Regions from separate parts of the Homo sapiens genome. Here all the other regions are linked to region 5. Evidence: fine-mapped expression QTL. A gene starts in region 5. Each other region holds a variant in brackets. All regions are shown on one strand. Distances are from middle to middle. Region 1 overlaps PDGFD (platelet derived growth factor D). Region 2 has its middle 110 kb from the start of MIR4693. Region 3 overlaps PDGFD (platelet derived growth factor D). Region 4 overlaps PDGFD (platelet derived growth factor D). Region 5 holds the start of PDGFD (platelet derived growth factor D). Region 6 has its middle 71 kb from the start of MIR4693.

Evidence for each region. PIP is the estimated chance that this variant, and not a neighbour inherited with it, causes the effect.
Region 1: its variant is the best candidate, but not a certain one, in a credible set for the expression of PDGFD in lung (TOPMed, PIP 0.63).
Region 2: its variant is the best candidate, but not a certain one, in a credible set for the expression of PDGFD in whole blood (INTERVAL, PIP 0.87).
Region 3: its variant is the best candidate, but not a certain one, in a credible set for the expression of PDGFD in whole blood (INTERVAL, PIP 0.75).
Region 4: its variant is the best candidate, but not a certain one, in a credible set for the expression of PDGFD in whole blood (INTERVAL, PIP 0.76).
Region 6: its variant is the best candidate, but not a certain one, in a credible set for the expression of PDGFD in lung (TOPMed, PIP 0.74).

The regions. Positions count from the first base shown.
Region 1 is chr11:104,058,320-104,063,612 of GRCh38, reverse strand. All of the region lies in intron 1 of PDGFD (platelet derived growth factor D), which reads left to right. Among named protein-coding and RNA genes, the nearest start is that of DDI1, 24 kb to the right of the region's middle. The variant A/G (reference allele first, on the strand shown) is at 2,476.
Region 2 is chr11:103,741,469-103,746,761 of GRCh38, reverse strand. No RefSeq gene overlaps it. Among named protein-coding and RNA genes, the nearest start is that of MIR4693, 110 kb to the left of the region's middle. The variant T/A (reference allele first, on the strand shown) is at 2,121.
Region 3 is chr11:103,957,411-103,962,703 of GRCh38, reverse strand. The region is part of intron 3 of PDGFD (platelet derived growth factor D); the gene reads left to right. Among named protein-coding and RNA genes, the nearest start is that of PDGFDDN, 53 kb to the right of the region's middle. The variant A/G (reference allele first, on the strand shown) is at 2,221.
Region 4 is chr11:103,930,322-103,935,614 of GRCh38, reverse strand. The region is part of intron 5 of PDGFD (platelet derived growth factor D); the gene reads left to right. Among named protein-coding and RNA genes, the nearest start is that of PDGFDDN, 26 kb to the right of the region's middle. The variant T/C (reference allele first, on the strand shown) is at 2,285.
Region 5 is chr11:104,161,565-104,166,857 of GRCh38, reverse strand. It overlaps PDGFD (platelet derived growth factor D), which reads left to right and starts at 2,711. Exons shown (of 7, transcript NM_025208.5): 1 at 2,711-3,054. The coding sequence starts at 2,931.
Region 6 is chr11:103,776,052-103,781,344 of GRCh38, reverse strand. No RefSeq gene overlaps it. Among named protein-coding and RNA genes, the nearest start is that of MIR4693, 71 kb to the left of the region's middle. The variant G/T (reference allele first, on the strand shown) is at 2,084.

The DNA of each region.
Region 1 (5,293 bases), 100 kb after region 5:
AACTAAACCTCTTTTCTTTATAAATTACCCAGTTTCCGGTAGTTCTTTATAGCAGTGTGAAAACGGACTAATACATCCCCTTGAGGTATACACCTACTGCTTTCAGGTAACATAATTTTTGATGGTGCTGGATTTAGTGATTTTAAAAATCCACTCTGATTTTAAAGTTCAGAAGTCTATGATTTAATGATGTTCCCAGGATAACCTAATTATTGCAGAACCCAGATTAATTCCTCTTCTGCTTGTTTATCAAAGTAAATTCTCTCTCTCTCTCTCTCTCTCCTCTCTCTCTCACACACACACACGTCTAAAACAGCATCATAGAAGGTAAGATGAATCAGTAAAGGACTCTTATAGAGATTTCCTGTTTTACCTTAATGTTGATGATGATATTGGTATGTATTGCCTGAGTATGTGTATTTGTAGAAAGGCGTCAAAATCTTTTGCTTTAGTAGAAAACTACCTTCCTTACCTCAAAAGCCTGTCCTCATTCTGTACTATTTAGCAGCATAATTGAATTCATGTCTCCCAGTTCTTTCCAAAGCTTGGAGCTTGGGGCAATTGCCCTAGTTTACTGGATCTGAGGAGAAGCTCTTCAGTGTTTATATAACTCAAAACTGTGGAGGTTCAAAATTAGAGGATTTTTTGTTTTATTTTATTGTGGTTCAGAGAAGATAGAGGTTCACAACGTTTCACAGGAATACATGGGAGATAAAATTAATAGCACTGACAGTTACTCTATATTTGTATCTCTAGAGAAGGCTGCATATCTGATCATCAAATTCATTAGCATATCTGTTGTGGAAAATGGTGATTAATCTGATTAAAGGCATTTTTGTTTTCTTCCCTTAACATGAATTTTCAAACATCCCTGTTTGTCGCCAGGAAGTAGCTTTGAATTTACTTATTTTTAACTGCAGCAATTCAGACAATGTTTGTAGTAGCATAATAATGTATTCTCTTTGTATGTCAGTTCTCATTTGGTTACTACTGCAATAAACTCAAGATTTAAGTGGATGAATAAATATATTGAATTAATATAAGTAATTATTCCTAACGTATTCTGAGGTATTGAGCTGCCATTTGGATATTTTTGCAGCCTAACAAAAAAACTTGTAATTCAAAACTTAAATGGGCCATTTTATATCAGATTGATAGCACCAGTTATGCAGTTTCACATACTTCGAGTTCAGAAAAGTCTTTTTATTAGACGGAGTCAAGGAAGAAAGATAGGAAGAGCCAGATCTTACGACATGCAGAGAAAGAACAGATGGAGGAATTTGCCTTTTCTGTGGCCAAGAACAGGGTTGAGAAATATCCCAGGAAGAACTTGCCCAAGGTTGTAACTGGAATGCTGGTTGAAGGTATCTGTTTCTGTGTGACAGAGAGAAACACTGGGTGCTGTCTGGGAACCAGGTGATGTTCACTGTTGCAGATGGAGTCAGAAGTTGCTACCCTTTATCTCCTATTGCAAACAAAATGTCATTGAAAAGCTGTCCCTTCTTCTCCCCTCCCACTCAGAAAAGCTTAGGCTTGACTAGAGGGGATGGTGTCTCAATTATGAAACATTCCACGAAACGTGAGAAAAACGAGAATAGAAACTAGAGGCATAGACAAGCCAAAAGTATGCTAAGATAGCAGAGGTCAGTACCTACTTGAACTTCTTCGAGTTGTAACCACTTGAAATGGCAAAAGCACCAGAAACGGCCAGGCATGGTGGCTCAAGCCTGTAATCTCAACATTTTGGGAGGCCAAGGCGGGCGGATCACTTGAGGCCAGGCGTTCAAGACCAGCTTAGCCAACATGGCCAAGCCCCGTCTCTACTAAAAATAAAAAAATTAGTCAGGCATGGTGGCATGCACCTATAATCCCAGCCACTCAGGAGGCTGAGGCAGGCATGGCTTGAACCTAGGAGGCCGAGGTTGCAGTGAGCTGAGATCACGCCACTGCACTCCAGCCTGGATAATAGAGAGAGACTGTCTCAAAGAAACAGAAAACAAACAAAAAACAGAAAGAAAAACACTGAATTTGCAATGTATCAAACATACACACACTGTATTTCATTGGATGAATATATCACATTTTGTTTATCCATTCATCTGTTAATGGAACAGATTTTTGATCGCTTTTAAAATTAGGGCATCTGTTAAGTCTTTTTTGCCCGCTCCCTCCCGATTTAGATGGGTGTTCAAATATATTTCTCTGAATACTGGCATATCATTGGTTATATGGGTTGCAAAATCTACTCTTACTCTGTGACTAGCTTTTTCAGTACATGTTTTGGTGTCTTTTAAAGAACAGACATTCTTAATTGATACAGTTTTAACACTTTTTTTTTTCCTTTTTGACTAGCATTTTAATGTCATGGCTAAGAATTATTTTCTTACTTAGTGTCATAAAGATATACTCTGTTATTTTCTATAAACTATACAGTTTACCTTTCATATTTTGACCCATTATTTAGCTGTAAAAAGG[A/G]ATGAAGTTCTGATATGTGCTTCAACATGTATAAACCTTGAAAACATTATAAGTGAAATGAGCCAGACACCATGCAAATTCATAGACGGAGAAAGTAGATTAGAGGTTACCAGGGCCTGTGGGAAGGAGGAAATGGGGAGGTTTTGCTTAGTGGTTGTAGAGTTTCTGTTTGAAGTGATGAAAAATTAGAAATAGTTGGTGATGATGGTTGCACAACATTGTAAATGTAATTAATACCACTGAGTTGTACACTTAAAGTGGTTAAAATGGCAAATTTTGTGATGTATATTTTACTCCAGTTTTTTAAAAATAATAGTGAACTATACAAAAACATTTGAATTGTACTTTAAATGAATGAGTTATGTGGTATTTCAATAAAGCTGTTAAAAAATACACGCACAGAAGCACCATATGGGAGACGTACCTCCTGAAACAGGGTTGGCACATCATAGGTTTGTTCATTCATTTAGTAAAAAGATATCAAGCATTTTTCACTCTGCTACTAAGCTGGACAAACAGAAGTATACACAGGAATGTCTCCTAATGAGCCAGACAGAATTCCCCTTGGCTACAAACTTATGCAGAATTTAACAATGGGCACTATAATTAAATCTGAATTAGCAACCCAGGGGCAGCCTTTCAACCCTTCCCAACCCCTGCACTGAGAGAAAACAGTGATACCCTCTATGCTTATCCCACCCAGATGTGTACCCAGGCCCAGTATAAATAGGACTGTACTCCTCCAGGCCTCTGGGCCAGCTACCTGGTCCAGAGAAGCATGCTCACCTTGTCCAAGACAGTGGAAAAGCCTAGCCCAGGAAAGAGGAAGCCACATGAGTCAGACATTACACCCAAGCATATGTGGACACCTGGAACCTCTCTGAGTTGCTGATCTGGACAAAACCTAGATCTAGAAGTGAAGATGCCAAGACACTGTCAAAATGTAATTCATAACACAGTGGATCTGTACAATCCTTTGCTGCTGTAATAGTGAATGTTTCTGATGTAACCCCCATTAGTCGGTCTTTTGAGATGACACAATGCCCTTATCAAACAGAAACAAATGGCAAACAAGCAAAATCAAATTAGGAGTTAGTGTATTGTCCTTCAAATACCATTTCATTCTGATGTTTCTCCTCAGGCTATCACCCATTTAGGCCAATCCCTTGCAGAAGCTAAATCTCCCATACAGTGAAATGACAACTGATATTCAAAATGATTTGTTTTCAAAGCAAAATTGTGTTTAAGCCTTCTAGGTGTTAGCCAGTTTGCTAGAGGTTAGGAAAATCAAGATATATAAGCTAAGATCCTGTTCTCATTTTAGTAGAAGAGACAAATAAATGTCAGAGGGGTACTATCTTGGAAACGGATTAGTTGACCTGAAATGCAGGGAAGAAATTGGTGAATCAACAACAGCAGAGTCTTCAGGGAGGAAGGCTGTTCAAGCAGTTTTGAAGGATTAGTTGTTCCTTAGGCAGACAAGACCTCAGAAGAGAGAGAAGAAAAAGGCACCTGAGAAATGCTTAAAAGTGGGAGTTTTTATAATGTAAATTGGAAAAGGTCAATAAATTAATTAGAGTTGGATTTGAATTAACTGATCTTAAAATAATAACAATACTGTAACAATCTAGTGCTAAATATTTATGGAAAATGTTCACTTGGGGGAGAGAGGGATGTTACATTTGTAAAAAGATACTTTGTATTTAGTTTATCAAAATAATGGATGATAAAGATATAAAGATATTTAAGAATCATGTCCTAATGAAATTGCTGACAGTTATTAAGAAAAAGGCTTTTTATTTTTAAGTAAAAGTTACATATGAAGATTGTATTTATTTAGGAATGTTTACGATTTATATTTGCTTAGGAATGTCAGACATTTTGAAGAACACACAACTTCAAAAACACAAATAGTATTTTACAGCCACTGTGAAACTCCCTAGCTCCAAATACTCTTTTTTGCCATTGAAATTTGTTTAGATGGATTTATTGAAGTATAATGTACACAGAGTCAAATTCACCATTTTCAGTTGTACAGGTTGAGTTTTGACAATTATGAACAGTTGTGTCACCACCACCACAATCAAGATCTGTAATATTTTTGTCACCTGAAAATGGCCCATGTCCCATGGTGCTTCCCTGTAGTTGATCCCCTCCCCTATCCTCATGCTCTGGCAATACTGAGCTGTTTTCTGCCCTTGTAGTTTTGCATTTTTGTGAGTATCATATAATGGAATCATGCAGTATACAGCCTTGTGTGTCTCGCTTCTTTCACTTAGCATAATGCTTTACATATTCGTTCACGTTGTTGAATGTATCCATAGTCCACTCATTTTTATTGTGAGAGGTTTTCCATCATATGAAACTCCTGTAATTTGGTTTATTCATTCAATGGGCATTTGCTCATTTAAATTTTTCTGGTTTTTAGTTATTACGGATAAAGCTACCATGAACTATGAACATGTGAGTATAGCTCTGTGTTGTTATTTCCTTGGCATAAATACCTATGAGTGTGGTAAGTGTATGTTTAACTTTATATGGATCTTCCAAACTATTTTCCAAAGTGGCTGATCCTTTGTGCATTCCCATCAACAATACATGAGAGTTCCAGATCTTTACCAGCATTCTCTGTTGCCTGTTGTCCTCGTTGTTGCTGTGTAATTTTAGTCTTTTTAGTGGATGTGTTTTGATATATCATTATGGGTTTGATTTGCTTTTTCCTAATGACTAATGATGCTGAGCATCTTTTTATGTGCTCATGTGCCATTCAAACCTCTTCTTCAGTGACCTATCTCTTCATATCTTTTGCCCATGTTGT
Region 2 (5,293 bases), 420 kb after region 5:
TGCACACAAATTAGAAAATCTGGAGGAAATAGATAATTCCTGGAAACACAATCTGTAAGTGAAAATGTAAGTAGACCAATAACAAGTTCTGATATTGAGTCAGTAATTAAAAACCTACCAACCAAAAAAGCCCTGGACCAGATGGATTCAAAGACAAATTTTTCCAGATATAAAAGACCTAGTACCAATTCTACTGAAACTATTTCAAAAAAATAAAAAAGAAATTGCTCCTCCCTCACTCATTCTATTAGGTTAGCATCAGCCTAATACCAAAATCTGGAAGAGACACAGAGAAAAAAGAAAACTTCAGGCCAATATCCCTTATGATCATAGACACAAAAATCTTCAACAAAATACTAGCAAACTAAATCCAGCAGCACATCAAAAAGTTAATTCACCATGATCAAATAGGCTCTTATTCTTGGTAGGCAAAGGTAGTTCAGCCTATACAAATCAATAATTGTGATTCAAATAAACAGAACCAAAAAAAACACTATATGATCATTTCAATAGATGTAAAGAAAGCCTTTGATAAAATCCAAAATCCCTTCAGGATAAAGCCCTCAACAGACTAGGCATCAAAGAACATACTTCAGAATAATTAGAGCCAGCTATGAAAACTCATAGCCAACATCATACTAAATGGCCAAAACCTGGAACAATTCCCCTTGAAAACTAGAATGAGACAAGGATGCCTGTTCTCACCACTTCTCTTCAACATATCACTGAAAGTCCTAGCCAGAGCAATCAGACAAGATAAAGAAATAAAAGGTATCCAAATAGGAAAACAAAAAGTCAAACTCTCTCTTCTTGCTGGCAATATGATTCTATACTTTAAAAATTCTAAAAATTCTGTGAAAAAGGGTCCTAGAACTGATAAACAACTTCAGTAAATGTGCAGGATACAAAAGCAATGTACAAAAATCAGTAACATTTCTATACACCAATAACATCCTAGCTGAGAGCGAAATCAAAAACACAATTCCATTCACAATAACCACCAAAAAATTAAAGTAACTAGGAATACAACAAAAGAGGTGAAAAATATCTATAAAGAGAACTACAGAACATTGCTGAAAGAAATCAGAGACAACACAAATAAAAAAATATTTTATGCTCATGGAGTGGAAGAATTGACATCATTAAAACAACCATACTTTCCAAAGCAATTTACAGATTTACTGCCATTCCTATCAAAATACAAATGTCATTTTTCACAGAATTGGAAAAAAATATTCTAAAATGTGTATGGAGTCAATAAAGAGCCCAAATAGCCAAAGCAATCCTAAGCAAAAAGAACAAAGCCAGAGGCATCACATTAACCAACTTTGAACTATACTATAAGGCTACAATAACCAAAACAGCATAGCACTTGTACAAAGACAAACACATGGACAAATGGAACAGAATAGAAAACCCAAAAATAAAGCCACATATCTACAACCATCTGATCTTCAGCAAGGTTGAAAAAAATAAGCAATGAGGAAAATACTCCATATTCAATAAATGGTGCTGGGATAACTGGCTAGCCATATGCAGAAGAATGAAACTGAAACTTTACCTTTCACCATGTACAAAAATTAACCCAAGATGGGCTGAAGATTGAAATGTAAGACCTTAAAGTATAAAAATCCTAAAGAAAACCTAGGAAATACCTTCCTGAACATGAGTTTTAGCAAAGAATTTATGGCTAAGTCCCCAAAAGCAATTGCAGCAAAAATGAAAATCAACAAGTAGGATCTACTTAAACTGAAGAGCTTCTGCACAGCAAAAGAAACTGTCAACAGAGTAAACAGACAACCTACACAGACAACCTACACAGACAACACAGAGTATAAGAAAATATTCACAAACTGTGTATCTGACAAAAGTCTATTATCCAGAATCTACAAGAAACTTAAACACATCCACAAGAAAAAAAAGTAATCAAAAATGGACAAAGGACATGAACAGATACTTCTTAAAAGAAGTCAACAAGCATATAGAAAAACGTTCCACATCACCAATCATCAAAGATATGCAAATCGAAACCACAATGAGATACCACCTCACACCAGTCAGCATGGCAATTATTAAAAAGTGAAAAAGGAACAGATGCCAGCAAGGTTCTGAAGAGGGAA[T/A]GCTTTTACACTGTGGGTGGTAATGCAAATTAGTTCAGCCACTGTGGAAAGCAGTTGGAAATTTCTCAAAAAACTTAAAACAGAACCATCATTCACCCCAGCAATCCCATTACTAGCTATATACCCAAAGGAAAATAAATCATTCCACCAAAAAGACACATGCGCTCATGTGTTCATCACAGTGCTATTCACAATATCAAAGACATGGAATCAACCTAGGTGTACATCAATGGTGGACTGGATAAAGAAAATGTGGTATGTATACACCATGAAATACTACGCAGGCATAAAAGGAATAAAATCATGTCCTGTGCAGTAACATCCTCAGCAAATTAACTCAGAAATAGAAAACCAAATACTACATGTTCTCACTTATAAGTGGGAGCTAAACACTGAGTACACATGGACATAAAGATGGGAACTATAGAAACTCGGGACTACTATAAGGGGTAGGAAGAGAAGGGGGTGTGTGCTGAAAAATTATCCACTGGGAACTGTGCTCAATACCTTGGTGACAGGATCATCCACACCCTAAATCTCAGCATCATGCAAAACACTCATGTGACAAACCTGCACATGTACCCTGTAAATCCAAAATAAGAATTCAAAAAAAAAATGTGTCCTAAGAAGCCACCTTGGTAATATTGCCTGGTGGAATATTCAGATGCCTCAAGCCACAGCCAAGTTCTAACTGTACCTATTTGAGACTCTAAATAAGAACCACCTAACTGAGCCTGTCCACCTACAATATAATTATATTAGGGTAATTTATTACTTTGTGTTACATAATACGTAATTACGACAACACTAAAGTAACGAGTTATCTATCTGAAACAATGTATGTAAAAACACTTAAAAATTTTTCACCATTATACAAATGTTAAGCAAATTTGGAAAAATAGTACAATAATTGTTTTTTTTCCTTGTTTTTATTTTATTTTATTTTATTATTATTATACTTTAAGTTTTAGGGTACACGTGCACAATGTGCGGGTTAGTTACATATGTATACGTGTGCCATACTGGTGTGCTGCACCCATTAACTCGTCATTTAGCATTAGGTATATCTCCTAATGCTATCCCTCCCCACTCCCCACACCCCACAACAGTCCCCAGAGTGTGATGTTCCCCTTCCTGTGTCCATGTGTTCTCATTGTTCAATTCCCACCTATGAGTGAGAATATGCGGTGTTTGGTTTTTTGTTCTTGCAATAGTTTACTGAGAATGATGATTTCCAGTTTCATCCATGTCCCTACAAAGGACATGAACTCATCATTTTTTATGGCTTTATAGTATTCCATGTTGTATATGTGCCACATTTTCTTAATCCAGTCTGTCATTGTTGGACACTTGGGTTGGTTCCAAGTCTTTGCTATTGTGAATAGTGCCGCAATAAACATACGTGCGCATGTGACTTTATAGCAGCATGATTTATAGTCCTTTGGGTATATACCCAGTAATGGGATGGCTGGATCAAATGGTATTTCTAGTTCTAGATCCCTGAGGAATCGCCACACTGACTTCCACAATGGTTGAACTAGTTTACAGTCCCACCAACAGTGTAAAAGTGTTCCTATTTCTCCACATCCTCTCCAGCACCTGTTGTTTCCTGACTTTTTAATGATTGCCATTCTAACTGGTGTGAGATGGTATCTCATTGTGGTTTTGATTTGCATCAAATCAAACCAGTGATGGCGAGTGATGGCGAGCATTTTTTCATGTGTTTTTTGGCTGCATAAATGTCTTCTTTTGAGAAGTGTCTGCTCATGTCCTTCGCCCACATTTTGATGGGGTTGTTTGTTTTTTTCTTGTAAATTTGTTTGAGTTCATTGTAGATTCTGGATATTAGCCCTTTGTCAGATGAGTAGGTTGCGAAAATTTTCTCCCATTTTGTAGGTTGCCTGTTCACTCTGACGGTAGTTTCTTTTGCTGTGCAGAAGCTATTTAGTTTAATTAGATCCCATTTGTCAAGTTTGGCTTTTGTTGCCATTGCTTTTGGTGTTTTAGACATGAAGTCCTTGCCCATGCCTATGTCCTGAATGGTAATGCCTAGGTATTCTTCTAGGGTTTTTATGGTTTTAGGTCTAACGTTTAAGTCTTTAATCCATCTTGAATTAATTTTTGTATAAGGTATAAGGAAGGGATCCAGTTTCAGCTTTCTACATATGGCTAGCCAGTTTTCCCAGCACCATTTATTAAATAGGGAATCCTTTTCCCATTGCTTATTTTTCTTAGGTTTGTCAAAGATCTGATAGTTGTAGATATGCTGCATTATTTCTGAGGGCTCTGTTCTGTTCCATTGCTCTATATCTCTGTTTTGGTACCTGTACCATGCTGTTTTGGTTACTGTAGCCTTGTAGTATAGTTTGAAGTCAGGTAGCATGATGCCTCCAGCTTTGTTCTTTTGGCTTAGGATTGACTTGGCGATGAGAGCTCTTTTTTGGTTCCATATGAACTTTACAGTAGTTTTTTCCAGTTCTGTGAAGAAAGTAATTGGTAGCTTGATGGGGATGGCATTGAATCTATAAATTACCTTGGGCAGTATGGCCATTTTCATGATATTGATTCTTCCTACCCATGAGCATGGAATGTTCTTCCATTTGTTTGTATCCTCTTTTATTTCATTGAGCAGTGGTTTGTAGTTCTCCTTGAAGAGGTCCTTCGTGTCCCTTGTAAGTTGGATTCCTAGGTATTTTATTCTCTTTGAAGCAATTGTGAATGGGAGTTCACTCATGATTTGGCTCTCTGTTTGTCTGTTATTGGTGTATAAGAGTGCTTGTGATTTTTGTACATTGATTTTGTATCCTGAGACTTTGCTGAAGTTGCTTATCAGCTTAAGGAGATTTTGGGCTGAGACAATGGGGTTTTCTAGATATACAATCATGTCATCTGCAAACAGGGACAATTTGACTTCCTCTTTTCCTAATTGAATACCCTTTATTTCCTTCTCCTGCCTAATTGCCCTGGCCAGAGCTTCCAACACTATGTTGAATAGGAGTGGTGAGAGAGGGCATCCCTGTCTTGTGCCAGTTTTCAAAGGGAATGCTTCCAGTTTTTGCCCATTCAGTATGATATTGGCTGTGGGTTTTTCATAGATAGCTCTTATTATTTTGAGATACATCCCAACAATACCTAATTTATTGAGAGTTTTTAGCATGAAGGGTTGTTGAATT
Region 3 (5,293 bases), 200 kb after region 5:
AGTCGGTGTTCCATATGTAATTCAATTGAGTGCTCTGTCTCCAACATCAGTTTTTAAAAATGTTTTCACATGGTGATTATCAAATCTTTTCTACCATCCAAAACAGTGCAGGATATTTCATATTAGCAAGATAAGTAGCAAAAGAGTTTCTCAACTTGCCTCCTCTTCATTTACAGGCATGGAGTTTGCTTTTATTTTGTTTGTACTCAGAGATCCTTTGATGAAAGCCATCCAGGGCCATTTGTATTCAAGCATCTTTATGATCCCTGCTGGGTTTAGACATAGCTTTTAGTAATTCCTCCAAATCAATTCCTGCTGACCAACCTCAAGGGTCATCATAAAGTACTTAAGGGATTCTCATCTATTGAATCCTCTGATCAGGAAAACATTCTAACTCTTCTTTGAAAAAGAAAGGTAATTTTGTACCCTGCTGAGGGATAAGATAGGACTAAATTGTATTTGAGTGGAAAATGTTATTATCATTTGAGGGGTTTGATTACCAAAATAAGGAATGACTCCTAATTCTAAGATTGCCTTAAAGTATTATGGACATTTCAAAAAGTTTTTCCAAACCAACGGCACCGAATTCCTTGTCTTCAATTTTTTTCCACCACCCTCATTTCCCTGAATAGCTATCTGTTGTTTCTTGTTGGTTTCCTAGGAACCCCATTATGTTACTTAAGTTCACTGAATTCCAGATTATAAAAAAATGTTCTTTGTATTTTTCATATGCACTGAAAAGGAGACATGTGAGCAGAGGAGGTGAAGATGTGGCTATATTAACAACCAGTTTCCTACAACTTAGTGTAATGCAGTACAGTATGTCAAGAGACCTGGGCTGCAGGCACTAATTGGCAAGTGACGCTGACACTTAACCCTTTGGGGCTGTTTCCTGTATGTAGGAAAAGGGTGATCAGGATGACAGCTCTGTGAGAGCAGTGACGTTGAAGTTCTTTTTGTTTCTTTTTCTCCAGTACCTTGAACTGTGTAGTCAGTAGTAGTGGAAGCCATAAATACCTGTTGAACAAATGATTAAATGAATCGCTGAATAGATGATTAAGAAAAAATCCCAAGTGTGGTCTTCAGGATCCTCTGATTTGTCTTGTACCTTCTTTGTCAGTCTAATTTCCTGTCTGTTACTTTGGGCACATGACATACTCACAGATCCCAGATGATGCCAGTCTCTGCCTTAGTGCATGCTTTCTCCTTCACCTGCCTGCTTCCCTATCAAAATCCTTAATTATCATACAAAAGTCAATTCCAAGGCCACTTCTTCTGAGACCTTCCTCCAGCCTTCCTAAATGTACTTAAATCATTCTTTCTCCTGTAGAACTATGGGGCTTTGCTTATGGCCCCAGTAGAGCATTTATTTCTATAGATTGGATTATTCATTTATTCATTCTACAAATATTTATTAACATCTGCTATGTAACAGCCAATATGCTATGACTTTACATTACTCATCTCATTTGAATCTCACAGCAATTCAATGACTAGTCATTCTTCCATTGCAACACTATTTATTGAATGTAAAAGGTTAACAGGCCCTGTTGTAGGTACTTGGTGGGAGAGCAATGAGAAAGTTAGAAAACATTTCCACCCTTAAGGAGCTTACACCCTAATGGAGAGACACAAACCTGGAAACAAGTACAGAAATAAGTGAATAAGATGCTATGGATTGAATGTGAGGGTTTTCCCTAAACTCATCTGTTGAAATCCTAATCTCCACTCTGTTGGTATTGACAAGTGGGGCCTTTGGGAGGTAAATAAGACATGAAGGTGGAGCCATCTTGATGTGATTAGTGCCCTTGTAAGAAGAGACATGAGAGAAAAGATCTCTCTCTCTCTCTACCATGTGTGGGCACAGCAAGAAGACATCCATTTGCAAACCTGAGCCCAACCATGTCAGCACTCCGGTCTTGGACTTCCCATCCTCTAGAACTGTCAGAAATAAAGTTCTGTTCTTTACAAGTTACATATCCTATGGGAATTTGTTCTAGCTGCTCCAACTGACTAAGACACAAGATAATTCGAGATAATGGTAAGCCATTAAAAAACTTAAAGTTGCTGATACAAAAAGGAATGACAAGAGTAGGACATTAGAATTAATCTAGACAACACATTTCTTAAGGTCAATTTTGCTTCCTGTGCATCCATGCATTAGCCAACACCTTGCTCAATGACTTACATACTTTGGTCATTCAAAAATCTCAGTCAAAT[A/G]GTGAATAAAACTTTGAACTCAGTAGTCTATGAGATCCCTTGCAACTTCCAAACTGGTAAGAATAAAAAATAAATACATAAGTAAATAACAGTTTAAAGTGTAAGTGTGAGGCATGAGGCCTGCCAAAAAAAATCCATGTCCAAAGAATATCTCAGCTAATCCTTGGGCGTGGGCAATAACCTAGTCAGCTCTGAATTTTCCCAGTCCAGTAGAGGAGAAGCAATAGTTCACCCAATCCCTATTTTTCCTTTCACTCTGGAATGCAGTTTATCCTTTTTTTGGCACCAAAAATACCTTTGTAATTGTATTTGGTTTGGATGAATATGGCAGTAAATTTGCATTCTCTAAGTACACAGATGTAACGGTACAAAAAATTATAGCAAGATGCAAAGAAGAACCAATCTGGGATTAAAATTTTGCTGTGCAAAGCCTAGTGTTTTCACTCATAAAACTGCTGATGAATATTGCTAGTGTAATAACTGGTCAAAGTAAAAGATGTTCCTGTTAACTGATGATAACCAAAAGTAAAAAGGAATTTTTAATGCCCATACGCATGAACTAATAGAAATTAAATTGCAGGATCTCTCATTTAATTACCATTTATCCTATTCCAAAATGATCCTCCCAGCCTGGAGGAGAAGACTTCAAGTTGTTTACTTGGAGGGATGAAGTCCTATGGACTGAGTCAGGCAGTTGCCCCCAGGAGGTCTCTTTCACTGATGTTAACCATGGTGTTTGGCAACAGTATTTTTTCTCTTTGTAAAGTTTTATCAGCTCTGTCATAAATTCTTAGGAATTTATGAAAACCTGTACTTAGCACAGTCTGAAACTCACGACCTGTGTGCTTGGCACTCAGTTCCAACAAGTTCACCTAATGGGCCCAGATAGCAAGCCTGCTTTGGAGATCCAAAATGTGCCAGCTGCCTTAGTTAGTTGCTAGTTGAGTGGGGAGTGGAAAGAGGAAGTACAAAGTCAAGAATATACGAATCTCCCCTTTTGTGAGAAGAGTAATTTGCAAGGGTATGAGTCCTATGCTTTTGTTTCAGACTTTACATTAACCATCTCTCTAGTTTAACCACATAAATGACTCTGGAAATCCCCTTAGAAAGAAGTCAGGTCAAGAAAAAGGTACTTTGAATTACTTGTTTTCATTTACATAGCTGTATAGTAGTAACATGACTCTTAAATATTTTATATTCAGTATGGCCCATAGTGCCAAATGATAATTATGATGGGTGGCAGCTCTGATGAATGAACACTGGTCCAGTGTAAGGATAAGGATGAATGTGTAGAGGGAAAAGGTGTCACAACGCAAAGTCACCTCACTAGGAAATACCCATATTTTTAAAAAGAATGGACAGCTTTTTTAATACTTTACAACTGACACTCCTGATTCTCTTAGAAAATGTTCCCGTTTACATTATAATCCCATCACTTGCTGAGTAACATTTCATGAGTGCTCTTTTTCATGGAACCGTACCAGCTGTGTTGACTGTGGCTTTGGCTTTTAGACTTCAAATGGTATTTTCTCCCTAAAGTCAGATCTTAGGAGTTTTAATTAGTAATGGAATAATTTGAGTTTTTAGAGATAATGATTTTAGCTAAGGGATTTTGGTGACATGGCCTTAATCTTCATACTGTTTGTAATTCCCATTTTCTCTAATTACTGGTTTTAATAATGTAACTAGCTTTTGGCCACCATGAAGAAAATCTATTTATATAACGTCAGTCAAGTACAGAGAAATTTAGCAGTTATTGGGAGTGTGAATTTCAGCACAGAGGCGTGAAATGGTTTGTTGAATTCTGAGCATGAAACAGTATTTCCTCTCTTAACCACAATAATAAAAACAAACCAAACAAACAAAAAAGAGTGCTTACTATGTACCAGGCACTGTGCTTGCAAGAAAATGAAAATATGAATCAGGTCAGTATTTCTTCATTTCAAACTTGTAATTTTCCTAAGGTGCAGGAATAATTTCCTAAGTCATTCATTTTAGCTTGGTATAAACAATCTTTAAGATTAGCTTAGCAATATCAAAAGTACAATCTTTAATAAATTTCAGACCACTGGTGAATTGAATCAGATGTTCTCTTTGAAATGCATTTAAGGAATTTATGAAAACCTGAACTTAGCACAAATCAAGAAGATTCGTTTATTTTATAAAAAGGATTATTTATAAAAGAAAAGAGGAATTATTCAACAAAGATGAAAGAGTACAGAGACTCAGCCACGGTTTCAGGTATCTGTGGCACTTCCTTAATAATAGGGCTTGCATCCTGTCTTTCTGCTTCCTCATCTTTTAAAGCTACTGTAGAAATGATGAATGAGATAATTTATGGAAAGTATTTCATATAGTCACCGGCATAAAATCTGTGCTCCATAAGTGGCAGGCGTTACTGCAAAATAATTAATCACAGAGTTTTTTTTTTTAATGCTAAACAACTAGTCACAAAATTTAAATCTGAACCTAGCTCTTCGGCAACAGATTGTAGAAATACTGTAGTATTTCTCTAGGTGTAAATTAAATGTTCACTTACCAAACACCATGGAGGTTGGTGAACCAACACCATACACCAAACACCATGGTATGACCAAACACCATGGAAGCTATTAACAAAGTAGTATTTTGCAATTTGCAACTTTCTGTGCAGCCCCTTGGTATGCGGCACCCCTCTCTCTATCTGCAAACACGCTGATCCTCTCTAGTTCTTGAATATCATTCTCATGACCCCTTTTAAATCAATGACCCCCTTCTCTTCTCAGCTTGCTGGACTGGGATTTGCTCTAATCTTTACTTACTATATCGAGAACAAATTCCCAAACTAGCCAGTTTTCCCAGCACCATTTATTAAATAGGGAATCCTTTCACCATTGCTTGTTTTTCTCAGGTTTGTCAAAGATCAGATAGTTGTAGATATGCGGCATTATTTCTGAGGGCTCTGTTCTGTTCCATTGATCTATATCTCTGTTTTGGTACCTGTACCATGCTGCTTTGGTTACTGTAGCCTTGTAGTATAGTTTGAAGTCAGGTAGCGTGATGCCTCCAGCTTTGTTCTTTTGGCTTAGGATTG
Region 4 (5,293 bases), 230 kb after region 5:
TGTCTTATTTAATTATCTGTATAATCAGTGTACTCATTAAAAGTTTTCAAAATTATCTCCAAGTACTAAACTTTTCTGATACTATTTATCCAGAAATTTTCTGACACTATTTTGCTTATTGGATGTTTTTTCTGCTAAGCTTTTCTTTTAGAGACTTTTGCCACTGTTTATGACTCATATGATTTGTAAGTATCTAGCTGCCTCACTTACTCTGTTTGCCAGCAAGCATTCATAAAAACCATATTGTTGTTTATCATATTGTGTGTGTCTATGAGGGCACACACATGAAATATTTTAAGAAAATCTCAGCAGTGGGACAACTTTCAGTTGTTTTTCCTCCTGGTGCCTGTGCCACCTCTGCTTTCATCCTAGACGCAGTTGTCCGTCTTTGTGGATATCCTAACCCCACCCTCATTATCAAAGTTATTCCCCTCATCTAGGCATGTCATTCAAATGCAAATCAATAGGAAAAATCCAGTTGACAGTGGAAAGCCATAGGTAACTTTTAGCGTCGGATGAACAAATGTGCATTTTCCACTGCAATTACTCTTGTTAAAGAGAAATGTGTGTTCCTTGTGTTTGCTGTGCTAATTTTTTTCTGTGAAGCATTGGAAAATTATTATGGGATTGTTTTCCTTTATGCCCCACTAGACTTAAGGAGACACTACACTGCTCCTAGAGCATATATGCTTGTAGGCCCTGCTGGTGCTGAGAGATCCAACTCACTGAGTGTCTTTACTTGCTAATATAGTTATGCATTGTGTCCCCACCCAAATCTCATCTTGAATTGCAATCCCCATAATCCCCATAATCCCCACATGTCAAGGGAGAAACAAGATGGAGATAATTGAATCATGGGGATGGTTTTCCCCATGCTATTCTTGTGATAGTGAGTGAGTGGCACAAGATCTGATGATTTTATAAAGGGCAGTTCCCCTACACTTGCACACATGCTCTCCCTCCTGCCACCATGTAAGACGTGCCTTTGCTTCTCCTTCGCCTTCTGCCATGATTGTAAGTTTCCTTAGGCCTCCCAGGCAATGCATAACTGTGAGGCCATTAAACCTCTTTTCTTTATAAACTACCCAGTCTTGGGTGTTTCTTTATCTCAGTATGAGAATGGACTAATACACTTGCAAAGGATAGTGTTACGTCTGATGTAATCAAACTGAAGACACCTGATCATTGGCTTTTTGTATTTAGTTCAAGGTGGGCATGGCCTTCTATTCCTTAGTAATCACCAATTACAGAATCTCAGCTCCTTCTAGTTTTAGGTGCTTCTGATTTAAACTTCCTTCTTTGATCTGTGTTACTCACTTCAGTAATAATGTGGGCATACCTACTGAGAGGTAGGATTTAGACCTGTGCTTCAAACACTCAAAACTCATTTAATCTTAACAAGTTCCTTGGCAGGAGCTACTGTGATTCCCATTTTGCATAGTAAAAGAAAAAAATTCAGAAAGTTTCTGTGAGAGCTAGAAAATAGAGAATCATGACATGAACTTGGCCTTGTTGGCTGCAAAGCTCATGCTGTGAGCAACTCAATGGTGTTTAAAGCTCAGGGATTCATAGTCTAGTAAATGAGAACAAGAAATTTTAAGACCTTCATCTCCTAACTTGTTTTTTAAAAAATTTTTCATTTCATAGATATGCTTTATACATCACCCCAGGTCATGAATTCCCAGGGTTCAGAGAATGGCTTTATGATGGTGTTACTGCTTTCATGGCTAATTCAGTGCCTTCCAGATATTCATTCAGTCATCCATTGATTTTCCAGTACATATGTGCTGAATATCTACTTACGTCCAGTGGCTTTAGGCAAGTCACTTAAGTCCTCTGCAACTCAGTTTCTACATCCATCCAATGGGAATTGTAATATCTAAGATGAGGGTTTGCTGTGAGAATTAAATGAAATTTGATTTTGTGAAAGCATCTCACAAAGTGCTGGATACATAGTAGTTGCTCAGTAAGTTTGCATTCACTCGTTGCTTCACAATGCTTCTAAACCTTGAAAATCAGGAATTGTCTGATTAAGAATCTTTTGCTGTGATTTAGGTTAATTTGTGTAAAAACAAGTGGTAAATGTTTTTATTCTTTAGATGTTAAACCCACATGTGGAGTCACAAAATTCAGTGTCTTTCATAATTTTAAGTTAAAGTATCCTGATAGTCCCTCATTAAAACTTATAAAATAATTGTCCTTTCCAGATTTATTTGCACTTCTGCATTGGGATTGAAATGTGAAAACAGTTTTCATAATTATGTGCTGATTTATAGAAGAGGGA[T/C]TCTGAAAATCACAGTGAGGTTGTAATATTCATAAGGATGAAGACTCCTGGTGAACTTATGAACCTTGAGAAAGGCTGAGAGCCCCTGGTTGTTTAACAAAAATAATACAATTATTCCTATAGTCCCCTCACCTCCCACCCCACCCCAAAGCATCATAAACCTGGTGCTGCAACATTAAAGGGAAATGTTTAGCACTTTTCATAACAGATTATGGCACTGTCTCCCATTTGACAAAGGCAATGTTCCTTAGCACCTTGATGTTTGCATCTGAGAACCAGTCTTCTCAAGACCATGCTCTACCATGTGTGCCACTCCTATATTTCACAGATCTTGGTGCCAGTCATCTCATGCATCTTGGTTCATCCTTGGCAGAGATGGTTCTAAATCCTAGTTTCTTAATTCTAACCTAACACTTTCGCACTACACCACATCCTAGACTAGTCTTGAGATAAGATCCAAACATTCAACATATAAAGTATTAATAATACTCTATGCATTCCTGAAAGATAGTTGGAATTGTTTCACCTTTGTGATAAAAAATTAAACTGAAAAAATCCATGGTTTATCTGATTCATTCAGGTAGTAATTATTGAGTGTCTATTTCTTGCAAAGGGAATCTGGCACAAAGACGATGTTGTGCTTCCTTCAGCAGCACCTTGCTCCTAATCGTTGAAGTCAAATGGTTTTAGAAGTGAGCTTGAATGAGCTGCATTTGGTCCTTACATTAGGGACAAAGTACTAGAAGAGAAGGGATAAAAAGATGATTAGCTCTCTACCTCCAACAACTTTTTTAGTTCAATAGAAGAGAAGCACCTGAATATGGATGCTTCTTAACTTTTGATGGGTTTACATCCCAATAAACACATTGTAATTGGAAAATATAGTTAAGTCAAACCACATTCAATACACATAGCCTACTGAACTTCGTAGCTAAGCCTAGCCTACCTTAAACATGTTCAGAACGCATATATCAGCCTATAGTTGGTCAGTATTATCTACCACAAAGCCTATTTTATAATAGAGGTTTAATAGCTCATATAATTTATTGAATACTTTACTGAAAGTGAAAAACAGAATGGTTTTATGGGTGCTCACCATTAACATACACAGCTGAAAGCACCATCAAAAAGTAAAAAAAAAAAAACTCATGTTGAACCATTGTAAGTTGGACTATCTGCAAAGAAAACAAAACAAGGTCTATGAAGTAAATGCTATAATAGAGGGCAGAAAAAGTGTGGTGAGTACATAGAGAAGGAGTCATAGGAGATGTAGAGTGAATATGCCTTTTGACTTGAGCTCTAGAAGATTAAAATAATATAGCAAGCTGAGATGCCAGAGAAAGCAAAACAGAAGAACAAGAGCATGGTTTTCAAAAACATCATGGCCCTACTTTGAGTGCTCATTCTCCACATGCCATCACCATGTGGTAAATATGCACTAGTATGTAGGCTGCTGCTGCATGCCTGCTAAGAGTTTATAAAGAACTTTAGCATTATAAAGGCTAGACCTTGTAACAACAATAAAATGATTACTGGTGCCAACATGGTGAAACTCTATCTCTAATGAAAATACAAAAATTAGCTGGGCATGTGGCACACACCTGTAGTCCCAGCTACTCAGAAGGCTGAGGCGGGAGAATTGCTTAAACCTGGGAGGCGGAAGTTATGGTGAGCTGAAATCATGCCACTGCACTCCAGCCTGGGCAGCAGAGCAAGACTCTGTCTCAAAAAAAGAAAAGAAAAGAAAAGAAAAAGATTACTGACTGTCTTCAAGGACATGCAGCAGTTTAATTGGATTCTCTGACAGTCTGTGGATGATCAAGAGAAAAAAGCATGTGATTCTACTATCAGAATAAAGATTGATGAATGGCCAGCACAGTGAAAGCCAACTGATAACTTAATGTTTAGAGACTGACTCAAGGAAACCATCCTCTTGTTGACCAAAACAAGCAGTAAATTATTGTGCATGTGGAGAACAAAGGTGCTTTCCCATGTTCAAAGTGAGGAGATTATTTTGTTTCATAATGAATTTTTGTATTCACAAAAACAGACTTACCTTTACATACCTTGATTTTGACCCAGTAAGGCACATTTTGGACTTCTGTCCACCAGAACAGGTAACTTGTATAAAATAATAAATATGTTTCACTTTAATAAGGAATAGATTTTTAAATTTTTATCTTAAGCTGATCACCACCCATGTTGTGCTTGCCAAGTATGTGAAATATTATATTGGTTTTATCTGTCCTACAGAAACTAGAATCTTTAGGATCCTGGCATTTGTTCCCACTGAGGACAAATCATTGCTATCAATCCATTCAGCTCCTAGATGAGGCAAGAAAGGGTTCAAGGAGAAATGAGGACAAAAGGAAGAGTGTGCATTGGCCAAAGTCCACTCGGTTCAGATAAAAGGACGAAATGTTTTATCACAATACCAAAGACAAAAGTAGACTCTGAATAGCTGCCTGGTTTATTAGTCAGAACTGAATAGGTGGATGAGGATACACAGCTGCTCGTGCTTGGGTATGTGTATTAATGACATTGTGAAAATGACAGGTTAGTGCCTATGGGTGCACCTAGGAAGCCAGGTCATTTGCACAGCAAGTGGTCCTCTGGTGGGAAGACTTCAGCATCGCTTGTGGAAGCTGCTCTCTGAACCCTCCTTCAAATCTTTACACTGGGCTCATAATGTACAAAAGGCATGAAGAGGCCTGGATTCAAACTCTGGCTCTACCACTGACTGGTTGTATGGCTGTGGACAAGTTTTTTTTTTTTTTTTCTTAACTTTTGAAAGGCTCAGTTTCCTCAACTGCAAAAGTAAGAGTAATGATTGTATGTAATTCATAGCATTTATGAGTATTTCATGCACTCATGATGAACACAGCACTTAGTAGTCTAGATGGCCAGGATCAAAAAGAACAGGTTGACTCTCCTTCCTCCCACACCTAATATTAGAAACTATAAAAGGGTGTGCATTCACATCCCCATTCTAGAGCTCAGATCCCAGCA
Region 5 (5,293 bases):
TGTAGTGGTAAATTCACTATTTTGGTGAGTCTGAGATACATGTAAAAAATAAATTGAAACAATCTTCTATCTTTGTACCAGACCTTTCTCACTAAAAGAATATTTTTATTAAATAATATTCTGTGTACAATGATACCTCAGTTGATATGATCAAACTAATTAGTAAGAATTAATTATTAGATATTTTAAAACCAGGTCCAGAATAATTGGTTGGGTTCAGGTGCCTAATTTGTGTTTTATTGTTGATTTTGGATATTTACTGACATTAAAGATCAAGAACATGTTGATTATATGTGATATCCCTTACTATTCTTACCTAAAATATTTGAAATTATGAATTCACAATGCCTTGGGAGCTCAAAGTATTAGTATCTTGGAAAACACTACATTGAATATTTAAAATTCATTATTTTATATAAGATATTAAGACACAATTTTAGCATTTTGATACTTGTAATAAGTCAGTATCTTGATACATGTCATAATTACATAATTATAAGTCATTTGCAAATTTTCTCCGTTTTTCTATAGTCTCATATCAGAAGCTAAGTATGAAATTGAATGAGCATTTCCAACCACTTCTAAAAAACGATATCACATATTTCAATTAGTCCCTACTCCTATCCCATCTATCTCTACCCCTTTTCACTTATTAACACAGTTACATACTTACTTGTTTATGTTCCCTTTCCTCTATTATAATGTAAACTCAAAGAGATTAGGAACTTTATTTCTTGTTCACAATTTAATCCCCAAGATTTTTAGACCAGGGCATAACACAAGGGGAAAAACTAATGCTTAATTAATACCTGTTGAATGAATAAATGATCCTTAGTGTCTCTCCCAGGGTTTCACTATATCCTGAAACAATGTAATTAGATCTTTTTTTCCAGGGGCTTTCAAACTTTTTTGATCATGCCCCAAAGAAATAACTATTATATTGTAGTGTTCGTGTATCTGAAACAAAATATTCATAAAACAATATTATTATCTCCAATGAACCCTGATAATTAAATTTCTAAACTATTGTATTCCAATCCATTTATTTAAACAATTATTCTGGTATTGAAGTTGATTTCATGGCCCACAAACCTAAATTTTGTAAAATACCATTTTAAGCCAAAAAGCCAATAGAGATGAAACATGTTGATCTTTGACTATGTTGAAGGGACACATGAACCCTCGTCCTTGTTGGATGGTATAATAACTTGACAAGGCTACCTTTTCCAGAACTTCCTGCCCTTCTCAGCCACTTAAAGTTCCCTATGTATGGATATCACTTACCATATGCCAGACTTTCAGGAGCTGGAAGGCCTGAAAAAGACTGAAAATTTTCTCTTCTAGATCTCATCAGCGGAAAATTGAGAAATCATATAAATTTGGATTTGGATTCAGCTACAAACAAAACAATATGCTAAACATTTTTTCACATCATTCTCACCACAACCATACAAATTAACAATTGCTACTCTTGCAAATAAATAAACTGAGTTTCGAAAGATCAGATGATTTGCTCAAGGGGACAAAGCCAGTGAGCAGCGAGTCTGGACTCATTCCTTTTCCAAATACAGTCCCCTCCCATGGGCAGACAGACACACGATGTAAACCAGAGGCAGCCCCTTTCAACTGCTGAGCTTCCAGACGCAGAGTAGGGAGAATCCCAAAAGCCTCAACGACCCATGCCTCTTCCTATGGACTGTGAAGGCAAGTGAGCACAGTGTTCTGCAACTTCTTCCCCTTGCTCAGTCTGTTCCTGCTCAACCCCACTCTGTCCTGTTGCCCTTTCCTGTGGAAGGGCTGGAGCTAGTGCATATAAAAACGCTCGTGAAGACTTCTTGCCCTTATTGTACACTGCACCACATGGCCCATCACGTCTACAGCCCTGTGTGATAGGTGGTTCATCTTGCTGCACCCTAGAAAAGGCATTTTGGTGTCCAATACTCTCTGGTACCAGGATGCCCTGACTCATCCTGGAGTTCGCGAAAAGTGAAAGCTACGCCATCCCTCCATCAGTCTCGACCTTTTCTCGGGCATTTTTGATAGATGGAGGGACTCAAGAGTAGCTTTCTCTGGGTGATATACTTTTATTTTTATTTTATTCCCTGAAAAGGTACCCTTGACTCACCCAAAGGTCACACTGATGGGAGCTCAAAGAAAAGCTCGGAATTAAGCTCCTTTGTGATTGTATTTTTTCACTATAAACAGTGAAATTTTAACTAAGTAGAGTCTCATTTTGGTTATTGTAAAATAAACACTCCCAACTCCAGTCCCTGTCCCCACATCCCACCACCATCAAGGCGGAGAGCTGTGGCTTGTGGGTGGATGTGCCAGTCACCTCTGAAGAAGTGCTGGGATTCTACCCTCTCCCACTTCCTCCTGGCGAGTTTGTTTCCTGAGCCCTTACAGGTCCAACCAGGAGGGTAAAGCCCAGGGCGGTGGGAAGAGTCCCGGCCGGCGATTAAACTGGGCATGCTCAGTGGCAGAGCAGGTTTAGGCCCGGCCTGGGAAACTGGGGAGCTGAGGTGCTCGCGCCGCCGCTCTGAGCCCGAGTGCGCGCCTCTCAGGGGCCGCGGCCGGGGCTGGAGAACGCTGCTGCTCCGCTCGCCTGCCCCGCTAGATTCGGCGCTGCCCGCCCCCTGCAGCCTGTGCTGCAGCTGCCGGCCACCGGAGGGGGCGAACAAACAAACGTCAACCTGTTGTTTGTCCCGTCACCATTTATCAGCTCAGCACCACAAGGAAGTGCGGCACCCACACGCGCTCGGAAAGTTCAGCATGCAGGAAGTTTGGGGAGAGCTCGGCGATTAGCACAGCGACCCGGGCCAGCGCAGGGCGAGCGCAGGCGGCGAGAGCGCAGGGCGGCGCGGCGTCGGTCCCGGGAGCAGAACCCGGCTTTTTCTTGGAGCGACGCTGTCTCTAGTCGCTGATCCCAAATGCACCGGCTCATCTTTGTCTACACTCTAATCTGCGCAAACTTTTGCAGCTGTCGGGACACTTCTGCAACCCCGCAGAGCGCATCCATCAAAGCTTTGCGCAACGCCAACCTCAGGCGAGATGGTAAGAGACTCATTTTATTTTTTAACTGAAAAAAAAATCATGTTTGCTATTGTTATTGTTCTTTCTATGTTTTTCCCCTTTCTTTTTGAATCTTGAATGTGAACTCGGGCTGAATGCATTGTTTGGGGAGGGAGGTCTCCTGCCTGTATCCAGTCCTGAGAGAGCTCCATTTCCGGAATGGGACTGAGAGGTGTGGGACGCGTGCTGATGGGGATAGGATAAGCCAGGTGGCTCACCTTGCTGCACCCTAGAGAAGTCATTTTGGTGTCCAAGCCTCTGGTACCAGGATGCGGTGCCTCATCCCGGAGTTGGCGAAAGTTGCAAGCTGCGCCGCCCCTTGGTCAGACTCAACCTTTCTTAGGCAATTTTGATAGGTGGAAGGAGTCAAGAGTAGCTTTCCCTGGGTGATAGACGTTTATTTAAATTTTATTTATTTATTTATTTATTTTTACGAGTGAGAGGAGAAATCGTGCGTTTCAATCTAGCAGTTATATCTGGAACAGTGACAATTTACTATTTATTTTCGGGAAATGGCAGTGTGCAGCCTATTGCCCTTTAGGTCCCCTAAGTGACTTTCCTATTGAAGTTCACCCTGACTCAGAAGCTCAGAGTGTAGGAGACCAAGGCTTCTGGGGTTTCATCAGTACCACAGGGGCACCAGGCTTCTGCTGCTAGTTTCCTTGCAGAAGCGGCTTCCAATTATCTACAAGGAGCACAGCTCCTGAAACAGCTGTCCTAAGCAAGGTCCCAAGCCAGCTTGTTTGTTTTCCTTTACTCTAGAGGACACCTGGGTCACTGGTTCCAGAGACCCTAAGCTGAGTTTATTTACTTTCTGGGGCCTCCACCTAAAACTGTAGCTGATGTTCCCAGCAAATTTTAGCTGTTCTGCCATGTACCTGAACTGACCCATAGGCTTTTGGATCTTGTTTTTTCCTACATCAGTATCTTTCTCTCCTGCTTGCTTAAAGTACTAACACATCTCCCAAGGAGACCATCAAGCAATTGTTGATGGCTTCACAGTTTCAGCTGACAGTATTTGACTGTCTTGGTAAATTCCTATTAGCCATCTTATCAGTTTCTTTCTTGGTATGTCCTTAATTTGGAATTTACTAAATGACTTTTGGACTTTGCAGGGAAACCAAAATTTCATTATGTTATCTGATGATGAGTAGACTATGGATATCAGTGTACTCGTCACCTGAAGTGGTGTAGATTTGTAGCAGGGGAAGCCACAGAGTCATCTTACTTTTTCATAGCGTTTTTATGTAAAAGATTCCAGCCGTGCATTTTTGGTAACTCTCTGTCTTAGTTAAAAGCACGTAATTTATTTATTTATTTATTTTTTTACTACACTTAAGGATTAGGCCCAACACCAAACTGTGTGGTTTTTTGTCTTTACTCTTTAATGTTTCCACTAGGGACAGATCTTGTAGGTTTGTTATTAGTTGCACTTTATATGTCCTTTTAGCTACATAGAGTAAAATTCCACTTGTAATTTGCATGACTTCATAGCCATAATTTTGTAATCCTCACCCTCCCAAGTATCAGTTACAAGAAGTCAAGGACAGAAAATGAAAAGCATGTAACCATTGCCCATTAACCCAAGATTCTGACTAAAACCAAGTTATGTAGCTCAGCAGGTTTTTTTTTTTTTGAAAGAGAATAATCTCATTTTAGTTTCCATTGTTAAAACTCTATACATCTCCATACATCTGTTCAGTCTATATGGGAAATGCTATGTTTCATGAAAGCTTTAAAAACTACCCTGGATTTCTCATTTCTTCATATTTCAGTTAAAACTGTTTTGCAGTTACTTTAACAGTACACACACACACACACACACACACACACACTCTCTTTGATTAGTTCTGATTGCTCAATACTTTCCTCAATGTCAATGTCATCTTACAAGCAAGACTAGGAAGGAGAAAAACGTAGTTACACATTAAAATTTGTTTTATATAGAGTAAAAAATGTTAATATTCATAATGGATTGTTAGTTTAGAAAATTTTCAAATGGCAGCTTTTTCCTAAATGAGCATGCATTCTTCAAGTGGGGCAATATTGTCCCCAATGGGGTGCAATTAGATCTTAGAGGGTGAACACAATCTTAGATATTGCAACGGTCTGTGTTCCTTCAAAGGGCTAGCAGATATAAATAGATATACATTTCTGTGGTATTACCATTCACAAGGAGGGAGAGTGATCAGAAAAGAAGTCTAAAAAGAGTCTTTAAGGG
Region 6 (5,293 bases), 390 kb after region 5:
TTCCACTTCCAGCTCAGTCTGCTCACAGCTCTAGCCACAATCCTTGGGATATTTGGTCTTCCTGGTTACTTTCTATATGCTGCCAAATACCAATTCTAGAATGGCAGCTCCTTCCAGCCATTCAAATGCTGAATTCTGCCCAGCCTTCCTTCTTTTCACACACAGTTTGGGACAAACCTGTGAGACTGGTTACTCAGAGGTCATGCACTTCTGCTTTCATCCATCTTACTCTTTCATGGCATTCCTAGGGATTTTCTCTGTTTCTCAGATTTCTGATTTTTTTACGAATTTGTTTCAAAATAGTGATATAAAACTTAATAATTCATCCTGGCTAACACGGTGAAACCCCGTCTCTACTAAAAACACAAAAAAATCAGCCGGGCGTGGTCGCGGGCGCCTGTAGTCCCAGCTAGGGCGTGGTCGCGGGCGCCTGTAGTCCCAGTTACTCGAGAGGCTGAGGCAGGAGAATGGCGTGAACTCGGGAGGCGGAGCTTGCAGTGAGCTGAGATCGCGCCACTGCACCCCAGCCTGGGCGACAGGGCCAGACTCTGTCTCAAAAAAAAAAATAATAATAATAATAATAATCGACACTTATAAAGCATACTGTATGTCAGGAATGTTCTGAGTACTTTAATCTTCACAACAACCCTATGAAGTAGGTTATTCTATTATTATCATTTTACATATGAGGAAACTGAGGCACAGATAGTTTAAGTAGGTTGCCTAAGGACACAAGCTAGGAATTTATAGAGCCCAAGTTTGAACCCTGTACATTTCCAGGGGCACTTGTCATGCAGTCTGTGCTATTGATACTATCTGTATCCTTGTGTTTTATGTTATAATATATTATGATCCCATAGAGGAAAAAGGCTGTGTCTTCTGAATCTTGGTGTCCCTCCATCAGGAACTTAAAACAAGCTGAAAGATGTTCTGGCTGCTTGCCAAACCTTTTTTATTAATTGCTACAAAATATTGAAGTATTAAAAATTCCATTTATATTAGTGAATATAAATGAGTGATTTGCCAGAAGAATGTCCTTCCTTCCTCCCTCTTTCCATGTTTCAATTCAGTCACGATATAGCATTTTCTTTTTTTCTTTTTCTCTTCTTGTTTTCTCTCCTTTATTTTCTTTCTCCTCCTCTTCCTCCTCTTCCTCTTCCTCCTCCTACTCTTCCTTCTTCTCCTTCTTATTCTTCTTCTTCTTTCTTCTTCTCCCTCTCCTCCCTCTCTCTTTGTCCTGGAATATTTTCTCTCAATTGATTTCACATCCCTACAGTATCAACAACAGGACCTGAATGACTTAGTGCAATATTTCCCAAAATGTGTTTTGCAGATTGTTGCTAGTCGTAGTGTTAAGAAAGGTAGTGGTAGGAGGATGGGGTCAGTGGGAAAATAAATTTGAGAAATGTGGGAGTAAACAAATATACATAGATTTATATAGGGAAGCCATTAATAAGCCTGGAGCTGTTAATAAGCTGGTATACATTATGACTCTTTAAGAAGGGGAGACAGCCTGTAGAATTTTCCAGGTCTATGTGACAGCAGACTCTAACAATGGGATTTGAGAGTTACTCTGTCAGGAAAAAACATACATTCAAATTAAAGGGTATCAGTTCCAGAGTCATTGAGCCTGGGGTTTGAATTTTGTCTCTTCCATGAAATAATTGCATGACTTTGAGTAATGTATTGAACCATTATGGAAAAATCAACTTATTTCATAGGGCTATTGTACCAAATGAGTACCTGAATTACTTAATAAATAATTTTAAATTTTTATTTATTTTTACTCTATTTATTTTTAAATGACAATTTTATTAACCATGAAAGTACCTGAAACAAAAATCAGTGTATACTTATGAAAACAAGAGCTCACAGAGAAATGTGGGTTACTCAATCTTTCTTAACACCTTAATTTCTATAAGGACTGAGCTGGTAGGAAGCTGCCCTATTATGGCTAGATTAGGTCAACATGTCTGAACCAGTTATGGTTGTTAGGAGCCAAAAATAATAAAGAACGCACCACTGAAGGCAGCAGCCATGGTTTCCTGACTATCCCCCAAACCAGAGAAAATTATGTTGACTA[G/T]TCTTAACCTGGAGCCATTAGGAAGAATAACTAAACCAGGCTTATGTACTTAGATATGATTCAGGACTTTTCATAAGTTAAATTTTTGACATATTTTCAAAATAACCACTATGTATGACAGAGCTTTTGTCATCCCCTTGAACAAGGAAGAAGAATCTTAGTGTACCTGCAGGCAGCCCTGTGTAACCTCAGAAGAACAGACTTACAGGGCCTGGTTTGCAGTAATTTTTCTCACATTTTTCAGTTTTAAATTTTATTTAGTGGCTGTAATTTGTTTTTCACCACTTCAGACTTGCAAACTTTGGTGAAAGAGGTGGGCAGAAACCTTAAGTCATTTTCCCTTATGGTAGGGGTAAAACTGGGACTCCATGATGAATAAAGAATTGGATTTAAGGGTCTTATCTGAGGATAGCAAGCTCTCATGCTGATGCAAGTTCTACAGACCCATTTCATTATTTCATTTAAAACAGGTTACATTAATCTGTTTTTTGGTAGAAATACATAGATCTCAATGTCCATTTTCAAATAATGTTAATAAATAGAATTACTTGTTTTTGTTTTCTAAACTTTAAAGCAAAGTTTTCCTCTGCACATTAGACAACATCCATGTGTATGAGCACATCTGGTAGTATGATGGAGTGAGGCTGAACAAGAGCAAGGGAAAATGACACAGTCCAGTCAGTAATTCCCACAAGAGGAGCCTTTGACTTATATAATGTTGCAACTCTAACTTACATAACATTGTAAACTCTGACTTACATAACATTTCAAACTTGATGTGCCCAGCATCGTGCCTTAAAAAAAAGAGAGGGTCAAACTCTTTGAGTCTGGTGAGAAATGCCAGTAGGCAGAAGGCTGCTGCTGTGAGAAGCTGATAGCAATGAAAAAAATAAAATGAAACCCTGGAGGATAATATTTACTTCTTTGACAATCCAAGTTACCCTCTACTCCAGAAGTTGGCAAATTTTTCCTGTAAAAGGCCAGATAGTAAATATGTCAGATTTTGCAAATCATATAGCCCCCGTTGCAACTACTTAAGTCTACTGTTGTAGCACAAAAGCAGCCATTCACAAAACTGTAAGGAATGCGTGTTGCTACGTTCCAATGAAATTTTATTTATGGATGCTGAAGTTTGAGTTGCATATATTTCTTATGTGGTAGAAAATATTATTCTTCATTTGATTTTTAAAAATAATCTTAAAATGTGAAAATCATTCTTAGTTCTTGAGTCATCCAAAAACAGGTGGCAGGATGGATTTGGCCCATGGGCCATAATTTGTCAACCCCTACTAAACACTTGTGACTCAAAGTATGGTCCACAGACCAGCAGCATTGGCATCACCTGGTAGCCTACTAGAAATTTCGACTCTTTGGCTCCACTGCAAACATTTCATAATCAGAATCAGAATTTTACCAAGATAATTTATATGCATATTATTAGGGTAAGAACACTTAACATGAAATTTACCCTGTTAAAAAATAATTTCAGTGTGCAACACTGTATTGGTAATTATAGGTGTAATGTTGTCCAGCTGATATGTATACTTAATCATCTGGCATAACTGAAACGTTATACTTGATGAATAGCAACTTCTTACTTCTCCCTCCCTCAGCTCCTCATAACCACCATTCTACTCTCTGTTTCTATGAGCTTGCCTATTCTATATACCTCATATAAGTGGTATCATACAGTACCTGTTCCTCTGTGACTGGCTTATTTCACTTGGCATCATGTCCTCAAGCTTCATTTATATTGTTGTATATGACAGGATTCCCTATTTTTTCGAGGCAGAATTATATTCTACTGTATATATATACCGTGATGGACATTGAGTTTGTTTCCAAATCTTGTTTATTGTGACTAATGCTGCAATGAACATGGGAGTGCAAATATCTCTTCAATATTCTGATTTCAGATTTTTTTTTTTTTTTGAGACAGAGTCTTGCACTGTCGCCTGGACTGCAGGGCAATGGCATGATCTCGGCTCACTGCAACCTCTGCCTCCCAGGTTCAAGCGATTCTCCTGCCTCAGCCTCCCAAGTAACTGGGACTACAGGCGCCCACCACCACACCTGGCTAATTTTTTGTATTTTTAGTAGAGACAGGGTTTCATTCTGTTGGCCAGGCTAGTCTCAAACTCCTGACCTCATGATCAGCCCGCCTTGGCCTCCCAAAGTGCTGGGATTACAGGCCTGAGCCACTGCGCCCGGCCAATCTTTCAGAGATATACCCATAAATAGGATTGCTGGACCAAGAGGTATTTCTATGTTTAATTTTTTTAGGAACATCCATAATGTTTTCCATTGTAGCTGTAACATTTTATCGTACCTTATGTTATATTACACACAAAAAAAATCAAGTCAAAATGATTACAGGCTAAAACTTAAGGTTTAAACTGTAAAACTCCTAGAGAAAAACATAGGGAAAAAGTTTCATAACACTGGTCTTGGCAATGACTTCTTAATATGACACCAAAAGCAAAGGCAAGAAAAGCAAAAACAGACAAGTGGGAGACCACATCAAACTAAAAAAAAAAGTCTACACAGCAAGGAAACAATCAACACAGTGAAAAAAAAAAAGAAACCCAAGAAGTGGGAGAAAATGTTTCAAAACCATGCATCTTATAATAGGTAATATGCAAAATATATAAGGAACTTCTTCAACTCAATAACAAAAAGACAAAAGCCCAATTAGCAGATGAGAAAAAGACTTGAACAGACATTTATCCAAAGCAGACACAAATGGCCAACAGGTATGTGGAAAGATGTTCAATATCACCAGACATCAGGGAAATGGAAATCAAAACCACAATGAAATATTTACTTACACCTGTTAGGATAACAATTATCAAAAAAAAAAAAGATTATATGTTGGTGAGGATGTGAAGAAACTGGAATCTTGTACTGCTGGTGGGAATGTAAAAGGGTGCATCTAGGAGACTTTTCACCATTGGGAACCTCCTTCAAAATAATTTCTACCTACAATGACCGGCAACTTAAAAGGCAGTTACAGTAAAGACCAGTTACTTTCCTAGTCCCTGGATGATTACTCAAAATGTCACAGGAATCTGGCCTTATTATTTATTTAAAAGCCACTTTCTCATTCATTTCTTCTTTTGAGCCACTGATGCCTCACCAACTAGGTTGCTGGACACTACAAGTATTACCCGCATTATTTACAGACAGGAGAGTTAAGAGAACTAATTTACC